Linked DNA regions of Homo sapiens. The protein of the gene in region 1 interacts with the protein of each later gene in a biochemical or structural test. Each region holds a gene or a part of one and is shown in the gene's direction. Other genes may lie near its edges.

Evidence for each region. The genes of interacting proteins can lie anywhere in the genome.
Region 2: the proteins of SNTG2 (region 1) and CLDN20 interact in a test that uses a peptide from one of them, tested with the Homo sapiens proteins (one large-scale study listed by IntAct).
Region 3: the proteins of SNTG2 (region 1) and SLC22A9 interact in a test that uses a peptide from one of them, tested with the Homo sapiens proteins (one large-scale study listed by IntAct).
Region 4: the proteins of SNTG2 (region 1) and RAB9A interact in a test that uses a peptide from one of them, tested with the Homo sapiens proteins (one large-scale study listed by IntAct).

What each region holds. Positions count from the first base shown.
Region 1 is NC_000002.12:1,261,849-1,265,348, forward strand, and holds part of SNTG2 (gamma-2-syntrophin), read left to right. Parts: intron 1-46; exon of another isoform or gene 47-173; intron 174-487; exon of another isoform or gene 488-570; intron 571-3,500. UniProt on the Homo sapiens protein: Adapter protein that binds to and probably organizes the subcellular localization of a variety of proteins. May link various receptors to the actin cytoskeleton and the dystrophin glycoprotein complex.
Region 2 is NC_000006.12:155,274,013-155,277,048, forward strand, and holds the end of CLDN20 (claudin-20 precursor), read left to right. Parts: intron 1-1,603; 5' UTR 1,604-1,707; coding exon 1,708-2,367; 3' UTR 2,368-2,536; downstream 2,537-3,036. UniProt on the Homo sapiens protein: Plays a major role in tight junction-specific obliteration of the intercellular space, through calcium-independent cell-adhesion activity.
Region 3 is NC_000011.10:63,368,587-63,372,584, forward strand, and holds the start of SLC22A9 (organic anion transporter 7), read left to right. Parts: upstream 1-1,198; 5' UTR 1,199-1,470; coding exon 1,471-1,872; intron 1,873-2,548; coding exon 2,549-2,652; intron 2,653-3,998. UniProt on the Homo sapiens protein: Sodium-independent organic anion transporter, exhibits high specificity for sulfated conjugates of xenobiotics and steroid hormones such as estrone 3-sulfate (E1S) and dehydroepiandrosterone sulfate (DHEAS).
Region 4 is NC_000023.11:13,706,128-13,708,565, forward strand, and holds part of RAB9A (ras-related protein Rab-9A), read left to right. Parts: intron 1-2,438. UniProt on the Homo sapiens protein: The small GTPases Rab are key regulators of intracellular membrane trafficking, from the formation of transport vesicles to their fusion with membranes.

The sequences.
Region 1 (3,500 bases):
GACTTTCCAGAAGCCAAGCAGAGACAGGGATGGGGCCCAGACTCACGTGGCTGCAAAGCTCATCCCGAATCCCGCTCTATTCCACGTGCTAGAAGCAGTGGTGTTCCGGGAGCCTGTCGCGAGTGGCCGTTAAGAGTTCTAGAACGTGTTCTCCACGGATCTTCGGGGTAGTCCTGTTTGGATAATATCAACACTGAGAGGAAGAATTCCTAAATGATTTTCCTAAAGCCATGTCAGGACAAAACTGCACCAGAGTTAAAGGCGAAGAAGGCAAGAAGACCTTATTCAAGTCTATTATGATAGGAGAGAGAGAGAGATTCAGAGATTCAACTCCACTGAAACAAAGGATGAGAGGGTTTCTACAAGTTGGGATGGGAAGGAGATTAGGGCCATCATTGTCTGTTAATTGGCCTCCTGCAAAGAAACAGAGAGCTTCCCCCATCTTCATGACAGGAGGTGGTTGCACAGCTTAGAGCCAAGCACCCACCAAGGCTGGGCTCCATCCTTCCACAGGGACAGGAGATGACGCCATCTTGCCAGTGATCACATTTTGAAGGGACAGCTCCCAGCTCCTTGAGAAAGACAGTCCTGGGTTGTACAGCCAGCAAGAGACTTCTAGAAAGATTCAGGTATCAAATGGCAGAGAAAGAACATACAATAATACATTTTCTAAAGCAAATGCTCTAAAGATAGGGAGTTCCAGGTCCCAGAGGTGGGAAGAAGCCGGGTCAAGTCTCAGTCCAGACGAGGAAACCCAAAGGCTCAGTCCAGACGAGGAAACCCAAAGGCTCAGTCCAGACGTAGTAACCGGAAGGCTCAGTCCAGACGAGGCAACCGGAAGGCTCCGTCCAGACGAGGCAACCGGAAGGCTCCGTCCAGACGAGGCAACCGGAAGGCTCCGTGCAGACGAGGCAACCCGAAGGCTCCGTGCAGACGAGGTAACCGGAAGGCTCGGTCCAGACGACGAAACCCGAAGGCTCGGTCCAGACGAGGAAACCCGATGGCCTAGCCAGCCGCTGACTGACTGTTGACGGCAAGCCGCTGACCTTGAACTTCAGTGCTCAGGGTTTCCAGTCGTATCAACACACTGCGATCCACAAGGTCTGAGTGATTGTTTTTAAAGGAGCTACAGGAACTATCTGGGGAAATGAGCTATATATGAATAATTAATTTTCCTTTTGTAGAACTTACAACACATTCTTTGTGAGGCTAAACAGTGGAAAAACAATCCCTTGCTTGATCAAGCAGTCTCACTCCTCAGAATTGAATCTAAAGAAGAGTCCATTACAACACTGAGTTCAGAGGAATCAAAGAGCTATATGTATGAGAATGTTTAAGGATATTCCTTAAATTAATGATATTTGAAGAATAATCAAAAGACCATTGAGAAATATTTTAAAATCTTACAACATATTTTAAGTAATTCTACTATAAATTTATACAGTTATATGTACAAATTCACATTGCATGAAAGAGAATATTAATTATTGTCCTATTATTAAGGTTATATTAATAATTATTGACATATTTTTAAAAATCAGATGACAAAACATAGTAATAAGTTTATCTTTTAAATTCCCTTTATTGTTGCTATAATTGTTTCATAATAAATATAAATAGAAAAAATATGTAATTTTAGAATACAACCCTTTTTGTTTTTTTCAGGAAAGGGAACATAATAAGATGATGTCTTGCAGTCCTAGGTGGGGGGTGGGCTTTCTTCAGTCGTGGGGGTGGCTGGAAATGCTGTTCTGGATATTGCCAGAGCTGACCCTGCCAGGAAGCCAGGTAGCTGCAAAGCAGACATCAAATCGACATGTACGGCCTGGCTCAGCATTGCCTTAGGACGTGTGTCTTTATGAAAGCACGTAGTGAACTCATGTGAATCCGGGATGTGAGCCCTGCATGCTGGCCACTCTGTCATGTGAAGTTATGACAACATTTTTATCACGATTCCATTTCACAGCTCAAAAGTGGAGGCTCTGAGAGAGTGAATTGCTCAAGATCAAACAGCTAATACTGGGCAAAGAAAGGCCTCAAATTTTATCTGACTCCAAAACCTGGTGTTCTTCTATTATAATACACAGCTGCCCAAATATAGCAAGTGATAGGAAAGAAACACAATTGACCTTTGAACAATATGGGCTTGAACTGCGTGGGCTCATTTGTATGCCAATTGTTTTCTATAAGTATGTTGGAAAATTTTTTGAAAACAATTTAACAATTGTAAAAACCTCTTAAGACAAACTGTGTAGCTTAAAAATATCAAAACATTAAGAAAAAGTTAGAGATGTCGTGAATTCATACAATATATGTAGATACTAGTCTATTTCATCATTTACTCCTGTAAAATATAAATCAATCAATTTGGCACCATCTGCAGTGGAGAGGAATATAGACAAAGGTAAAGATGCAGCGTTCAATCATTCCTGCCCATGGTTAACTGGAGCACATAGTGTGACATGGGTTTCTGAGTAAAATGTCTTAATCATCCCTGTGGAAGCAATTTCTCTCTCCAGTAAATTGCAGAGCATGGTAACGAGTGATCTCTCAGAGTTCTTGTGTACCTTCCCTCCTTCGTGTTGAGTCCAGTAACGTAAACCTTGAATAACACCCCGGGACCCACACGAAGTGCCACAAGGGATGTTGCAAGTGCCCCAAGAAGCGGGAATATCACAGCATTGCCAAAAAGCTGAATTGTTTGCTGTGCACCACAGATTGAGGTCTGCAGCGTGGTTGCCACCATTTCAGACCATTCATCTCATAAACAGATGATGTAAACTTATGGTGTCAATAAATACAGTGCAGTGCTCTAAGTATATCTTCTCTTCCCTGTGATTTTCTCAATAACATTCTCTATTCTCTAGCTTACTTTCTTAATTCATTTATTTATTTAGAGATAGGATCTTGCTGTGTCATCCAGGCTGGTCTTAAATTCCTGGGCTCCAGTGATGCCCCTGCCTCAGCCTCCCAATTAGTTGTGATTACAGGTGTAAGCCACTGTGCCTGAATTCACTTATTCTATTCTAAGAATGTAGTATATTATACGTATAACATACAGAATATGTGTTAATTGACTGTTCATGTTATTAGTAAAGCTTCTGATCAACAATAGACTACTAGTAGTTAAGTTTTAGGGGAGTCAAAAGTTATGCATGAATCTTCAACTGCGTGAGAGTTGGCGCCCCTAACCCCTGGGTTGTTCAAGGCCCAACTATAATGAGCCATTCAATGGGGGATGTGCGTTCCCACATAAATATCTTCCAAAAGTTTTTCTTTATCAGTTTTGACATTTAAGTTCAGTGGATAAAGAGATACTTTCTGCACCATAAGGTCAATGATGAACATGTTGTTCTTGGTTTGTGACGTGTAACCCTATAGGTTCCAGGTATCCCAGCTGAAGGAGACGATCCAGAGGGCCCCAGAATTAAAGTGCAGTTTCTGTACTCAAGGCTCATTTAGGGTTAGCAACGTATGCACACTACACACATTCACGTACA
Region 2 (3,036 bases), on another chromosome or scaffold:
AATATTGGTCTAAGCCCTTAAAATGTATTAACTTATTTAACCCTATGAACGAAGTATTTCAATCCTCCCCATTTTCCAGAAGAGGATACTGAGGCACAGAGAGGTATAAAGCTAAGAACTGGCCCAAGTGTCTTTGACTCAAGAGCCTGTATCACCTTTTGTAAAATACATATGAATCACGACAGAGCCACTTTAGCATACCATTCAAAATTAACTCAGAATGACAAAGAAAGTCAGTACTGCAGTATTTCAGAAACCATTACATTTTTCTCAAATAAGGCAGTAAGCAGTGCCAGATGGGCTAGATAGGGGAACAGGAATAGAAAGATGGAATCGAAAGCCTTTTTGTTTCTTAAAACACAGCCAAGCCACAAAGTAGGTGGTCTTTTCCTTCCTCTTAAAAATAAACAAAGAAAATAAAGGGTTAATTTATTTCTGGTATCCTTTCACATACAACTAATGATGTGGTTATTTCTGGTATGTATTTTTGAGATCTGCCATCACTACTTCTGAATTGTTCAGAATAGCCGGCTTCATTTGGGCCAGGAAATGATTCTGGTCCCAATTAGAAAGGACCTCATGTTCTTATATACAAAAAACAGTGGCTTAATTGTTTTGAGTACCAGGCACCTGAAGTAAAACAAGTACTAACCTCAGTCAGGATTTTGCAAACAGGTATTAACTAGAACTTAGGGATAACCATGCCAGTGACTCAGACTTCTTTCCACTGCTGTCCTTCCTCCTCAAATGGTTCACTTGGGCTATGTGCCTGGCACTGTGGGTGTGTCATAAAGATCTGTTTATGAAAGCCACTTCCTAAATACTTTTCTAAAATGTATTTATAAACCATCTTTAAAAGGTGGCCTTAATTTATTTTCTTCCTTATTATGTATTGAGTATTTTCATTAAAAATAAAATCATTTGGGCGAGGCGTGGTGGCTCACGCCTGTAATCCCAGCACTTCGGGAGGCCGAGGTGGGCGGATCACGAGGTCAGGAGATCGAGACCATCCTGGCTAACAGGGTGAAACCCCATCTCTACTAAAAATACAAAAAAAAAAAAAATTAGCCGGGCATGGTGGCGGGCGCCTGTAGTCCCAGCTACTCGGGAGGCTGAGGCAGGAGAATGGTGTGAACCCAGGAGGTGGAGCTTGCAGTGAGCCAAGATCGCTCCACTGCACTCCAGCCTGGGTGACAGAGTGAGACTCCATCTCAAAAAAAATAAAAATAAAAAATAAAATCATTTGAAAAACCTATAATGCTATTAAAATTCTTTATCAGATACTATAGCTGGAATTTCAAATGTCTAAATCTCCTAACAACGTACATGTCCACGCTACAGTTTCAGCATATGTTGAGTTTTAAAAAGAATTAAGTGGGCAACTGCTTTCTTTATGCCCTGTATCAACACCACCCATGCATATCACTCAGACCAGTCTTCAAGGCCTGGTGGGAGCTTTTCTCCTCCAGCCTACAGCATCCTCATCTGCTTGGGGGCTGGAGAAGGGGGATACTCAGATGTGTTCTTGGCTCCTACTCTAAAGGGAAGCCTTTTGTTTACTTACTTTCTTTCGCTCAATCCTGGTTTTGCCTTTTTTCCTTAGGCTTTGTTATTTGGTTCTCTACTGCACAGAAATAGATAGAATTCTGACAGCCATCATTGTTAAACATCAGGATTTTCTAAGAGGACAGACTTAACAGTAACATCATGGCCTCAGCAGGACTCCAGCTCCTTGCTTTCATCCTGGCCTTATCTGGGGTCTCTGGAGTGCTCACAGCCACTCTGCTGCCCAACTGGAAGGTGAATGTGGATGTGGACTCCAACATCATAACAGCCATTGTACAGCTGCACGGGCTCTGGATGGACTGTACGTGGTACAGCACTGGGATGTTCAGCTGTGCCCTGAAACACTCCATTCTGTCCCTCCCCATCCACGTGCAGGCTGCGAGAGCCACCATGGTCCTGGCGTGTGTTCTGTCTGCTTTGGGGATCTGCACTTCCACAGTAGGAATGAAATGTACTCGCTTAGGAGGGGACAGAGAAACCAAGAGCCATGCTTCCTTTGCTGGAGGAGTCTGTTTCATGTCTGCAGGAATCTCTAGTTTAATCTCGACAGTGTGGTACACAAAGGAGATCATAGCAAACTTTCTGGATCTGACAGTTCCAGAAAGCAACAAACATGAACCTGGAGGAGCTATCTATATCGGATTCATTTCTGCAATGCTGTTGTTTATCTCTGGCATGATTTTCTGCACCTCCTGTATAAAAAGGAATCCAGAAGCTAGACTCGACCCACCCACACAGCAGCCTATCTCTAACACACAGCTCGAGAACAATTCCACACACAATCTGAAGGATTATGTGTAAATAACTGAGTAATGCATATGAAATGGAACTTTTGGGTGCCAAATGGGACTTTTAGATTAAAAAAAAATCAGAATTATGCTTAACTTTCCCTACAAAGAAAGTAGAATGTAAAATACTTTAACAACTACAAAGTAGTTTAAAATGCCAATAAAACTATCATATACAATTACATCTGTCTGAAGAGTTCTTTATTTTTTCCATTATTGTTTCCATGTTTTACTTAAAGATTTATAATTGAAAGAGGTTCTGATTACATTCATAAGGCAATTATTTGATAGCTTTTTCAAGATAATTTGCTGATACACCTTTCAAACTGGATTTTATAAAAGAACTAAACTGCCAAGTATAAAAAGTACCTTGCCCTGGTGTTAACCAAGAATATTATCCACTTTGCTATCTGGTTGGCAACAACACAGCAACTTGCTTCTGTTTTAAAGCTACAGTGTGTGAAAGTACATTAGGAATACAAGAGCTGCCTACTCCATTCAGATGCTGCTAAAACCATCCATCCCAAGTCCCCACCTCCTGTGACCAGCCCATTTCTTTTTCATTTTAGAAAACTATCTACATATATTTGTAAGAGCTGACAATATTATATGCAAACTAAGATTAGGCAGAACTGAAGAAATTGGTAAATGCTACCACAGTAAAGAAAGCCAAACCAAACTA
Region 3 (3,998 bases), on another chromosome or scaffold:
CACTCATAGGTGGGAATTGAACAATGAGAACACATGGACACAGGAAGGGGAACATCACACACCAGGGACTGTTGTTAGGTGGGGGTAGGGGGGAGGGATAGCATTAGGAGATATACCTAATGCTAAATGATGAGTTAATGGGTGCAGCACACCAATATGGCACATGTATACATATGTAACAAACCTGCACGTTGTGTACATGTACCCTAAAACTTGAAGTATAATTTAAAAAAAAGAAAAAGAAACATTATGTTAAATGAATTAAGCCAGATATACAAAGTCAAGTATTTTATGATTCAATGTATAAATCAAATGTCCACAATAGGCAAATCCTTAGAATCAGAAAGTAAATTAGCGGTTGCTAAGTGGGATGTGTGAATAAAAATGGAGAGTTACTGCTAATGGGTATGGTTTCCTATGTGGTGATTAAAATGCTCTGTAACGATATAGTAGTGATGATTGCACAACTCTTTGAATGATCAAAACACATTCAATTGTATACTTTAAAAGGGTAAATTGTATGGTAAATGAATTATACTTCAAGGAGGTTTAAATTTTAATAGAAATTTTAGTCCTAATCAAGGTGACATTTTCTCCCATATTTTGCCTCCAATTCTTCCACAGCACATAGTGCATCTCACATAATATTTATAATGTTGGAGTGCAATTGTTTATGTACTCTCTCTTACTTACTCAACTATAAGATCCTTGAACTTGTCACACACGTTACTTTAGGAACTAGCATGGAAAAGGTCTTCACAAATACTATCTGAAAAATCAATAAGCCAGTAAAAGTAAACCTCCATATGAGCTTACTCCTCTGCTTTTCATCACCATCTATTCTGTCCACATTTCAAGCAATGTATTTCCAGCATGAATTTGTGGTGTGATTTGACATGAAGGAGAACATCAGTCACCAAAATGAAAGGATTGTACCACAGTACCCTTATTTTAGTTTAACTTCGACTTTTTTAGATTAACTCTTAATCAAAAATTGGTACTTAACAAGGAAAAACTTGCCTTCTGTTGTTTTCAGAGAAGTAAAAAAAGCACCTCACCTTTGAGTCGCCAAAATTATGCTTCCTGGAATGACCGCATACCATGTAGCAGGTTTATTTTAGTTTGTTTACAGAAAAGTGTAGACCAAAGTCCAGTGCTGACTTTGGGAGCTACTAAAGACATGAAAAAGTAGAATTTTAAACACATTTCATTGTAAACGACTGGGAGTATCTGAGCAAATTATTTCTTACGTGACTTTAGAGAAAACGGCTACCTATCTGACCCCAAAACGACTTGAGGAAACTGTTTCCACGGTCCTGCTGCAGAGGGGAAGCACAGTCGTCAAGAAGAGAGTGGGGTCAGGATCAAAACACATTTAGTGTGACTTAGGGAAAGAAAACATTTTCCCTCTTTGAACCTCTCTGGATACAGTCATTTTGCCTCTACTTGAGGATCAACTGTTCAACCTCAATGGCCTTTCAGGACCTCCTGGGTCACGCTGGTGACCTGTGGAGATTCCAGATCCTTCAGACTGTTTTTCTCTCAATCTTTGCTGTTGCTACATACCTTCATTTTATGCTGGAGAACTTCACTGCATTCATACCTGGCCATCGCTGCTGGGTCCACATCCTGGACAATGACACTGTCTCTGACAATGACACTGGGGCCCTCAGCCAAGATGCACTCTTGAGAATCTCCATCCCACTGGACTCAAACATGAGGCCAGAGAAGTGTCGTCGCTTTGTTCATCCTCAGTGGCAGCTCCTTCACCTGAATGGGACCTTCCCCAACACAAGTGACGCAGACATGGAGCCCTGTGTGGATGGCTGGGTGTATGACAGAATCTCCTTCTCATCCACCATCGTGACTGAGGTAAGAGGCTCTGTTCTCGTCTCATGAGTATGTGACCTGGGTGTTTAGAATAACACAAGTAATAATCATGCTTCCAGCCTTCAGTCACATGTAGGTCCTTAGTCTTCATTCTTTCAGCAAATACTAATTGCTTCTTTATTAAATGTCTGACACCTACACATTTTGAGTAATGAATTCCAAAGTAGAAGGCATCCTGCTATTATAATGCTTTAAGTCACAGGGAGACCAAAGTTTAAACAAGCATTTATATATAATATGTTAAAATGTTCTGCTAGGTCAGTGATGCTCAGCCTGTCATTGCAAATTAGAAATATCTGGGAAATTGAGAAAAGCCTCCATGCCCAGAGTATACCCTAAAACAATCATATGAGAAGGTCTAAGAGGGAAATTTAGGTTTCTAAAAGTTTTTAAAGGTCTTCAAGTGATTGCACCATGTGGTCATGTTTGAGAACCATTTAGTATGAAATAAAAACCTATAGGTTTAGGAAAGTCTTCCAAGAGAAAGTTATGTTTAAGTTGAGACCTGAATAACAAAGGTCAGGTAATGCTGAGAAAGGAAGCCACAGAGGAAGTTAGAGACTTAATATTAGGAAACTTGCAGATCATGCTAAGAAGTTTTGATCAAGTTACACTGAGGGGTAATAAGCATTGATGTGCTGGCTTCCTTCTCTTCCAGTGGGATCTGGTATGTGACTCTCAATCACTGACTTCAGTGGCTAAATTTGTATTCATGGCTGGAATGATGGTGGGAGGCATCCTAGGCGGTCATTTATCAGACAGGTGAGTGTGTATGGAACACAGCTCTCTTTAAGGGCATTTTTTATCAACTTATGAAACATTATTTCATCTAGAATTACTTACTGCAAATTACATTCTCCTGAGGCTGCCCTGATCCCCAAACAGAAAAGGAAATTTTTAGTCCGTGTTTTGAGTGCTATTTTTAAAATTTGAGCTCTGTATGCAGGACACAGAAATGATATCTCCATGTGAACTGGGGGTGTTTCAAGACAGGTTTTAGAGAGAAGGTACCACAACATGTGGTTTAGAAATATGAGAAAGAGTTAACTAAGGGAATAGAAAGGAAGACGTTTCATCACATAGGATTCAGCCTTGGCCAGGAGTACCAGGTCCAGTCCTACCTGGACACTGTGAGCTGATAGCTTGTGCCCAGAGAATTGTCATTACATCATAGTTCCAAGTGTGATGAACACGCATTCCTCTAAAACCTGTAGGGTATATTTGAAGGTATCATTGGTGGTGTGTTGAAAAATTATGTGTAGAAACTTGATTATTGTCTTTGCAAAAACAGCTTTTTAGAACCATGTGAGGTAAGTAATCCAAGGATAATACTATCTCAGTCTGTGGTGTGAGAAGTTTGGGGTATTCACCTTGCTGTATGTCTCCTGACATGGCAGGGAACAATTACCTTCACCCAACCATGTCTCCCCTGATGGCGATGAGGGACTTGAAGTGCCACTTGCCATCCACCAACATCATGTCTTCTGGTGTCTCACCTGAAAATTTGAACCTTGAATGTACGACAGGAAATGGAATGTAGAATGAGCTAAGAGTCAGAGGGTTAATTTCCAATAGTTAGTCACCCAGTCCTCTGTGATACTGTCCTGGGAAAATGCAGATAGACCAATTTTAATAGATCACAGGGTGGTAAAAGAAGGGGTAGGAGATGCCAGGCAGGAGATGACAGTGGAGAATCAGCTAAAGACGAAGGGACAAGATAACCTAAGGATTTTGGTATTTCTCACAAACCTAAGAGGAAATATTATGTGATTATATGCAGAGTAGGCTATGATCAAACTGATTGTTTTGGAATAACTCACTCAACTGTTTATGATATCTTAAAATCGGAAATAATCTATAATTTCATTAATAATAGGTTAATAAATAAGCAGATATTCACATAATGAATTTTTACAGCAAAGGGAATGAATAAAGTACTGTCTGCAATAAGGTGAATTAACATCAAAACCATTTGGTTAGGTACCACAAGACCAACAAAAAGATTACATACTATAGTGTTCCACCAATGTAAAAGTCAAAAACAAGGAACTACATTATGATGTGAGAAAAGGGAGAAATCTAATTTCCTTTAGATTTCTATTGGAATT
Region 4 (2,438 bases), on another chromosome or scaffold:
GGTTTTCAATCTTTTCTTTTTAAGTTGTTGAAGCAAGATGCCAAAGAATTAAAGCAGCCAATTTAGCACATTGTTACCTATGTCAGGAAAGTAAGGGGCTTGGGACTGTTGCAGTTTCCTCTTTAACATTAATAGTCTGGATATTGAGCAATACATTTGAAATTGAAAAAGTCTCTCAAAAGGTATGCACCTTAACTGCCACACACTTGTGTTGGACAGTTTAAATTGTATTAATATTAATTATAGTAGTAATTACTGTAGTATTAATTTGTTTTGTTTTTTGAGATGGAGTCTTGCTTTGTCACCTAGGCTGGAGTGCAGTGGTGCAATCTCAGCTCACGGCAACCTACGCCTCCCAGGTTCAAGGGATTCTCCTGCCTCAGCCTAGTACCTGGGACTACAGGCGCTTGCCACCACGTCCAGCTAATTTTTTTTTTTTTTTTGTATTTTTAGTAGAGACGGGGTTTCACCATGTTGGCCAGGCTGGTCTCGAACTCCTGACCTCAAGTGACCTGCCCGCCTCAGCCTCCCCAAGTGCTGGGATTACAGGTGTGAGCCATCGTGCCTGGCCTGTAGTAGTAATTTGAAAGAACCAGTAAGAGGTAGGGACTAAGGTATGTCCCATCATTTTTTAATAGTATTTCCCATTCACTTGATTTCTCACTATACAAGCCACTACAAGGTTTTTATCAGAACAGTGGAGCATGTGGCTAGAAGTGCAGAATTCCTACATGTTACAGTAAGTGTTCAGTTACACTATAGTTGCTCACATTGCATATAACCAGGAGACAGCCAGATAATGTTTACTGCAGTGATTTTACAAATTCATCCTGGTCAATATAACAATTATTGTTCATGTCTTTATTGCCTTCCCATGGAGGGATTCATAATACCTACTTTCCTATTAAGGTTATTGACCAAATTTGCTCTAGATCTGTGCTCTCCAATTGGCTCATTAAATGTGGCTATTTATTTAAAATTGAATAAAATTTAAAATGCGGTTTTTCACTTCCATCAGCCTCATGTCAAGTGTTCCACAGTCACATGCGGCTAAGTGGCTGCTATATTGGACATTTCCATTGTTGCATAAAATTCTCTTGTACAGTGCTGCTCTAATAGTTATCTTCTTATATACATTTTAGTATACTTAAAAACCATTTAATACTAAAGTACAGATTAAATGATATAATCTGATTCGAAATAACTGGGGAGAAGGGAGAGTTGGAGGGGTTATGGAGGAAACAAGATTTGCCATAAGTTGATAATTGTGAAGCTGGGTTTAGAGTTCATGGGAGCTCATTGTATTGTACTCATTATATAGAAATTTTGTACATGTTTTACATTTTTCACAATAAAAATGTAAGCAGAAGGATTAACCAGGAACTGTGCTCCCACCAGCACCTAGAAGTAGCTGTCTGTCAACGGGCATCTGAAATCTCACCCCCCACAGGCTGGCTCTTGTAGTGTAGTAAAGTTTTTAATCCTGCCACAGGACTTCTAAAGAACACATATAGTACCACATTTTCATTTAAGGTTTATTTCATTCTACCTGAAAACACACAAGTAGCAGCAGTCTCATGTTCCTTAAGTGTTTGAACTGCCCAAGTGAATCTTGTGGATAGAATGTGCTAGATTATATTAAAAATTCCATTGCTGCTGACATTAATTTGAACAAATTCAAAATAATGTTCTTAATGAAGAGAATAAAGTCCATTTACTCAGTGGTTGGTTCATACTTTATTTCACAGCCAGGTAAGTCAGTTTCTGTCTCTGGCTTTCCTGGTTAACAGCACCTGTGTCTGAAGAGAGGTGGAGGGAGTAGTAGAGAAAGTCCCTGGTAGGAGAGAGGCCTTAAGTGAACACCATCACTGTGCACTGAAGGGCTGTTTGAAGTTGTTAAGAGAAACATGTGGGCTGGGCATGGTGTCTCACGCCTGTAGTCCCAGCACTTTGGGAGGCCAAGACAGGTGGATTGCTTGGGCCCAGGAGTTTGAAGCCAGCCTGGGCAACGTGGTTGAGACCCTGTCTCTACAAAAAAATAGAAAAATTAGCAAGGCATGGTGGTGTGCACCTGTGATTTCAGCTACTTGGGAGGCTGAGGTGGGAGGATTGCTTGAGCCTGGGAGTTCAAGGCTGCAGTAAGCCAAGATGGTCCCATGCACTCCAACCTGGGTGACAGCGAGATCCTGTCTCAAAAAAAAAAACAAAACCAAAACAACAACAACAACAACATGCGAACTTTGGTCTCCTACCCATCTCTAACAAATGGTGGGGCTTACTATGAGCAGAGAGGGGCTTATCATAGAGTAACGGTTCAGAGCAAGGGCTTTGGGGTCAGACTTGGGCTTGAGTGCCAGCTTCACAGTCAACTGTGACCTGAGAAAAGGGAAGAGTGAGCCCTTCCCAGCTGTTTCAGAGAATAATGGTAGAATAGTAGC